Linked DNA regions of Homo sapiens: region 2 is linked to region 1. The links come from fine-mapping of genetic effects on gene expression. A gene starts in region 1. The other region holds a variant in brackets. All regions are shown on one strand. Distances are from middle to middle. Region 1 holds the start of BTBD6 (BTB domain containing 6). Region 2 overlaps BRF1 (BRF1 general transcription factor IIIB subunit).

What was found.
Region 2: its variant is fine-mapped to the expression of BTBD6 in whole blood (TOPMed, PIP above 0.99).

The regions. Positions count from the first base shown.
Region 1 is chr14:105,247,259-105,250,158 of GRCh38, forward strand. It overlaps BTBD6 (BTB domain containing 6), which reads left to right and starts at 1,275. Exons shown (of 4, transcript NM_001387567.1): 1 at 1,275-1,827; 2 at 1,899-1,989; 3 at 2,102-2,220; 4 at 2,382-2,900. The coding sequence starts at 1,454. All of the region lies in intron 5 of BRF1 (BRF1 general transcription factor IIIB subunit), which reads right to left. RefSeq lists enhancers at 901-1,691, 2,483-2,900 and silencers at 1,067-1,626, 1,827-1,876.
Region 2 is chr14:105,292,914-105,295,813 of GRCh38, forward strand. All of the region lies in intron 1 of BRF1 (BRF1 general transcription factor IIIB subunit), which reads right to left. Among named protein-coding and RNA genes, the nearest start is that of BRF1, 6.6 kb to the right of the region's middle. RefSeq lists enhancers at 160-309, 460-579, 1,220-1,349. The variant C/G (reference allele first, on the strand shown) is at 1,243.

The sequences.
Region 1 (2,900 bases):
GGCTTGGCCGTGCGGAGTTACGCACCCACCTGCAGCAGGTGATCTCCAGCTGCTCTGCATTCCACCAACACTACGTGACAAGTCTCAAGTTCAGCCGCCTGGGGGCTCGGGCACCCCATTCCTGGGAGAAATGATGATTTGTGCACTCTGGGCCATTGCATGGTGTCTGTTCACGTCCTTTGCCCGTTTTTTAAAAAACTGGGTTGTCAGCCTTTTCCTTCCTGACTTGTAGTTGCTCCTCCATCCTGGAGAGTCCTTTGTTGAAAATACCGCAAATATCTTCTGAAGAGGACTCTCCCAGGGAACATTCACTACAACTGTAACGACCACAGAGACACAGAGCTCCTGTTCACTGTTTAGCCCAGGACTGCGGTGACAGGTGCACCCATGACCCGAGATGCTGGCTGCGTCCTGTGGGGTTTCCTGCATATGGAAGTTTTAAAAGTCTAAAGCCTGGCGGTCCAGGAGGTTGCGTGTGTGTCCTCGGGGAGGAACCCTCCTGACAGCCAGGCCTCTGGAGCTTCGTCTGCACGCGAGCTTGGCATGCACCAGCTGTGCGGCCCAGGCCAGGTGACACGGCCTCTGAAGTCTGGTCTCCTCATCAGCAAAGCCAGTGCCCCATGCCACGCACCTCCCAGGATTAGCCCCAGGCCGGGAGGCTAGAGGCCCCACAAGGAGCGAGCCTGCGACTGCGATCCACAGGCAGAGCCACAGAGGCAGGGCGCGCCCTGGGGCCCAAGCTCCAGGGCTGCAGGCCCAGGGCCAGATCCTGACTTGCCCACCCGCCGGCTGTGTGACCTTCAGCGCGCGACTAACCTCTCTGTGCCTATTTCCTCGAGGAAAATGCCGGGAAATAGCAGCGCCTGCCCCTGTAAAGCCCTCAGAGCAGAGTGGACCGCGCTCTCTGCAAGCGCTGGCTGCTGGCGTCCGTAGCAAGCTAAATCGCGAAGCATCTGAACGAACGAGGAAGCCCAACGACCATCCCACAGGCCGCGGCCAGAGGCAGACTCCGGAATGCAAATGGCCAAACAAGCAGGTCCACCTGCGTTCCTAACCAAAAGATCGCTAACTGAAGAACGGGCGCAAGCACCTGCGCATGGCACTGCGGGTCTGGGGGCGGCCGCCTGCCAGCGCCGGGAGCCGCCTTCCACGGCTACCTCTGCACAGCGCGCGGCTCGCGCCGGTTGCTGGGCAGAAGCTCGAGCAGCTTCGAGGATGTCGGGCCTGGGGGCGGGGCCGCGAGGCAGCGACGTCGCGCGGGGCGCGGCCCTGACGCAGCGTGACGCACCGGCGCCGCGGCGGGTACGGGCTCGGGCGGGCGGGCGGGCGGGACGGCGCCCCCCGCGGCCGGGCCTGGCCGGGCTGCGCTAGGCTGGGCTCGGGCAGGGTCGCAGGGGCGGGGGTGGCAGGGGAGCGGGTGGCAGCCCCGCGGGTCACAGCGCCGCCGCCGCCCATGCTGCTGCCCCTAGCCTGCCTGCACGGCCGCGTCGCTCAGTGCCTGACCTCCTTGCTTTTGCTTGCAGAGCCGCTCCCGAGGCCCCGGCGCGGCGCGAGGGCGCGGGGCGCGGCGTCCACAGGCGCCGAGGCTGCCCCCGCCGCCCCGCCCGCGAAGATGGCGGCGGAACTCTACGCTCCCGCCAGCGCCGCGGCCGCGGACCTAGCCAACAGCAACGCCGGCGCCGCCGTGGGCAGGAAGGCCGGGCCGCGCAGCCCGCCCAGCGCCCCCGCGCCAGCGCCGCCGCCGCCCGCGCCCGCGCCGCCCACACTCGGCAACAACCACCAGGAGAGCCCCGGCTGGCGGTGCTGCCGCCCCACGCTGCGCGAGAGGTGAGCCCGTGCCCCGCGGCCCCCGCGCCCGCGCGCGCCCACGCCCCCAGCCCGTGCCTCTACCTTTGCAGGAACGCGCTCATGTTCAACAACGAGCTCATGGCCGACGTGCACTTCGTCGTGGGGCCCCCGGGGGCGACCAGGACGGTGCCCGCCCACAAGGTGGGTAGCGGCGGCCCCTCTCGGAACGCGTGCCCCGTCCGCCCCGTCCGCCGTGTGGCTGACACGCAGCCTGCGGGAGAGCCAGGCTCACGGCGGCGCTTTCTCCTCCCAGTACGTCTTGGCTGTCGGCAGCTCCGTCTTCTATGCCATGTTCTACGGAGACCTGGCGGAAGTCAAATCTGAAATTCACATTCCAGACGTGGAGCCCGCAGCCTTTCTGATCCTCTTAAAGTAAGTCCACTCTACTGGGGAGGGACGGGTGGGTCCGTTTTAGGCGGCCTCCGGAGGCTTCTGAAGGGAAGCACACAGGAGCTGATGGACTCCTCTCCCAGGCCCAGCCCCGCGATGGGTGCTTGGGAGCCAGCCCCTGACGCGGGCCCTGCCTCGCCTAGGTACATGTACAGTGATGAGATCGATCTGGAAGCCGACACGGTGCTGGCCACTCTGTACGCTGCTAAGAAGTACATCGTCCCAGCATTGGCAAAAGCCTGTGTCAACTTTCTGGAGACAAGTTTGGAAGCCAAGAACGCCTGCGTCCTGCTGTCCCAGAGCCGGCTGTTTGAGGAGCCCGAGCTGACGCAGCGCTGCTGGGAGGTCATTGACGCACAGGCCGAGATGGCCCTACGGTCCGAAGGCTTCTGTGAGATAGACCGGCAGACGCTGGAGATCATTGTCACTCGGGAGGCCCTCAACACCAAAGAGGCGGTGGTCTTCGAGGCCGTCCTGAACTGGGCCGAGGCGGAGTGCAAGAGGCAGGGGCTGCCAATCACCCCACGAAACAAGAGGCATGTTCTGGGGCGAGCCCTCTATCTGGTCCGAATTCCAACCATGACCCTAGAGGAGTTTGCCAACGGCGCTGCCCAGTCAGACATCCTGACTCTGGAGGAGACCCACAGCATCTTCCTGTGGTA
Region 2 (2,900 bases), 46 kb after region 1:
GGCCACTGCGGAGGAGCTGGTTTTGTAGTGATTACAATTTGGTTACGGAAAACAGGACGTGTGTCACGCTGCAGGCTAACCAGCAGCTTCCTCCCTCACCCAGATGGCAACGGGACAGAATTCACCCGTTTCCTAAGAGCAGGCACCTTCAGCCACAACTTAGGGTTCTGGGGGTCATGGAGCAGAGGCAGAAGCCTGGAGCCTTCCACCCTCAGGACTAGAGCCCCGCCAGGAGGCCAGGCGCATGCTCAGAACCCCAGGCCGCAGGGAGAGGCTGGCCGGTCACATCCTTCTCTGAGGCAGAGGGAGCTTCCCAGCAGGCGAGGGCAACTCCACCACCCATGTCCCCCTCCAGGGCCAGCGCCAGGTGACATGCAGCCATGTCACAAATTAGGTCCGGCTGCATCGTGACCCCAAACGGAAAACAGCAGCACTCACGGACACCCCAGCTTCGAAGTTCTAACTGTGAAGCCACTGAAAGTTGTGATTACGGGAAACGCTCCCCACCCCCACAAGTTCTGGTGACACTGAGGTGTGCTGCTCCTTGCACAGGACGAGGAGGGACCCCTGCAAGCAGGAGCCCAGGATGTCTGGTGTGTGGGCGCCATCACCATCACCTGCTGGCAGAGGGAAGCCTCAGGGCACACACAGTGCAGGACACTGATGTGGGCTCACAGGGAAGCCCCGCCTTGCCTCAGTGGAGCAGACGGCCTCCTCAGGGCACTGCCAACGGCCCCCAACTCCACCGTCTGCCTGGCCCCTCCAGCCACGCTGAGCCTCAGTCCTCACCCACCCTTCTCTCTGCACAGTCTCTGCTCGGGTGCCCCGGGACGCTGGAGCACCAGTGTGGTTTCCCCCGTGGGGCCTGGCTTCCAAGGTCAGGACCCTCTGGGGACTCTCCTGAGGCCTCTGGTCACCTGCCCTGATGCCTTAGTTAAATATTCCAGAGTAAACTGCGAAGCTGTATCAGGCTTAGTTCTCAATTAATAGGCAAAACACCTAGGAAAGACAGTGGCCTTGGGACTAGAAAACGACAGCTCAGAGAGAAAGCTCAGCTTTCAAGATGAAGCTGGAGGAAGGGGCGGCTGGGGCCTACTTGTGTGCCAGGGAAACTGAGAAGCCACCAAGGTTTCCAGCCCCCTGTGATCACCACTGTGACGAGGGAGGAAGGATGCCAAGTGGGCACCTAGAGAGCCTGCCTGGGAGACAGAGGGGCTGCCCAGAGCAACAGATCCCCTCTCT[C/G]CTCCCCACTCTCGGCCCAGGCACCACCTGCGCCGGTCCCCAGGGGCTAAGAACCCGCCGCCTCGCAGCACTTCCCCCAGGACCACCACAGTTGGTTGCTGGGCCTGCGCCTCCCTCCAGAGAGTGTGCCTGGGCTCAGAGGCGTCTTGGGGCCACCTGACAGCGCTGGCTCTGAGCTTGTTCTGACAGCACCCGGGTGACAGACTTCCAGCTCTGCACTGCTCCACACCACCATCCTCCCCCGGCAGGGCACAGTGAGGGCAGTGCGCTGTCACCAGGCCCGGATGCACTTAACACTGTGCCTGCCCGGGAAACCCTGCGTCTGCTGCCATGACAACTTGCTTTCATTACTGTTGTTATCATCCCAACAGACATCCAAGTCTTGGCAACTGTGACACAGCTGCAAACTCTGTGCCCAGCAGTCCTAGGAAGATACCCAGGGAGTATGAGCATGGAAGACGATGGGGAGGGAAGAGCAGGAGAGAAAACTCAATGAAGCCCAAGCCAGTTCTTAGAAAAGATCAAAAACACGGATCAACTTCTAGCAAGAGAGACAAAGGGAAAAAAAGACACAAAACACCAACATCTGAAAGGAAAAAGGAGGCCACTGTGGACCCCGCAGATATCAAAAGGATAAGGGAATGCTTCGAACAACTCTCTGGGCAAATTCAACAACTAGGTCAAGTGGACCAATTCCTCAACACAAGCGGCTAATTCACCCCAGGTGAAACACAGCATCTTAAATATAACTAGAACCTCAGTGATGAAAGAAGCCGAAACCACAGTGCAGAATCTTCTGAGAAAGAAAGCTTTGGGACCAGATGGCTACGCTGGTGAATTCTACCAAACATTTCAGAAAGAAAGAACACCAACTCTACATAATGTCTTCCAGAAAATAGAAGAGGAAACGTTTCCCAACCCATTCCATAAGGAGCAGAACCCTGATACCCAAGACAAGGACGTTACAGGAAAAACTACAGGCCAATATCCCACGCAAGCATCAGCAGGAACCCTCAACAGAACATCCGGCGCTGAGCAAAGCAGCTCATGCCGCTAATCCCAGCACTCTGGGAGGCCAAGGTGGGAGGATGCCTTGAGGTCAGAAGTTCGAGACCAGCCTGAGCAGCAAAGCAAGACCACATCTCTACAAAAAAAAAAAAAAAAAAAAAAAAATTGGCGTTGGCTCACACCTGTCATCCTAGAACTTTGAGAGGCCAAGACGGGAGAATTACTTGAGCCCAGGAGTTCCAGACGAGCCTGGTCAACATGGCAAAACCCCATCTCTACAAGAAAAATACAAAAATTAGCTGGGTATAGTAGGGCGCACCTGTAGTACCAGCAACTCAGGAGGCTGAGCTGGGAGGGTCACTGGAGCCCAGGGGGTTACGACTGCAGTAAGCCATGACCACTGCACTCCAGCCAGGGTGACTGAGCAAGACCCTAGACCCTGTCTCCCCAACCAAAAAAAAATTTTTTTAATTAGCTGGGCATGGTAGTGCATGCCCGTAGTCCTAGCTACTCTGGAGTCTCAGGTGGAAGGATCTCTTGAACCCAGAAGTTCCAGGCTGCAGTGACCTGTGATCACACCACTGCACTCCAGTCTGGGCAACAGTGAGACTTTGTCCCAGAAAAAAAAAAAAAAGCTGGGTGCGGTGGCT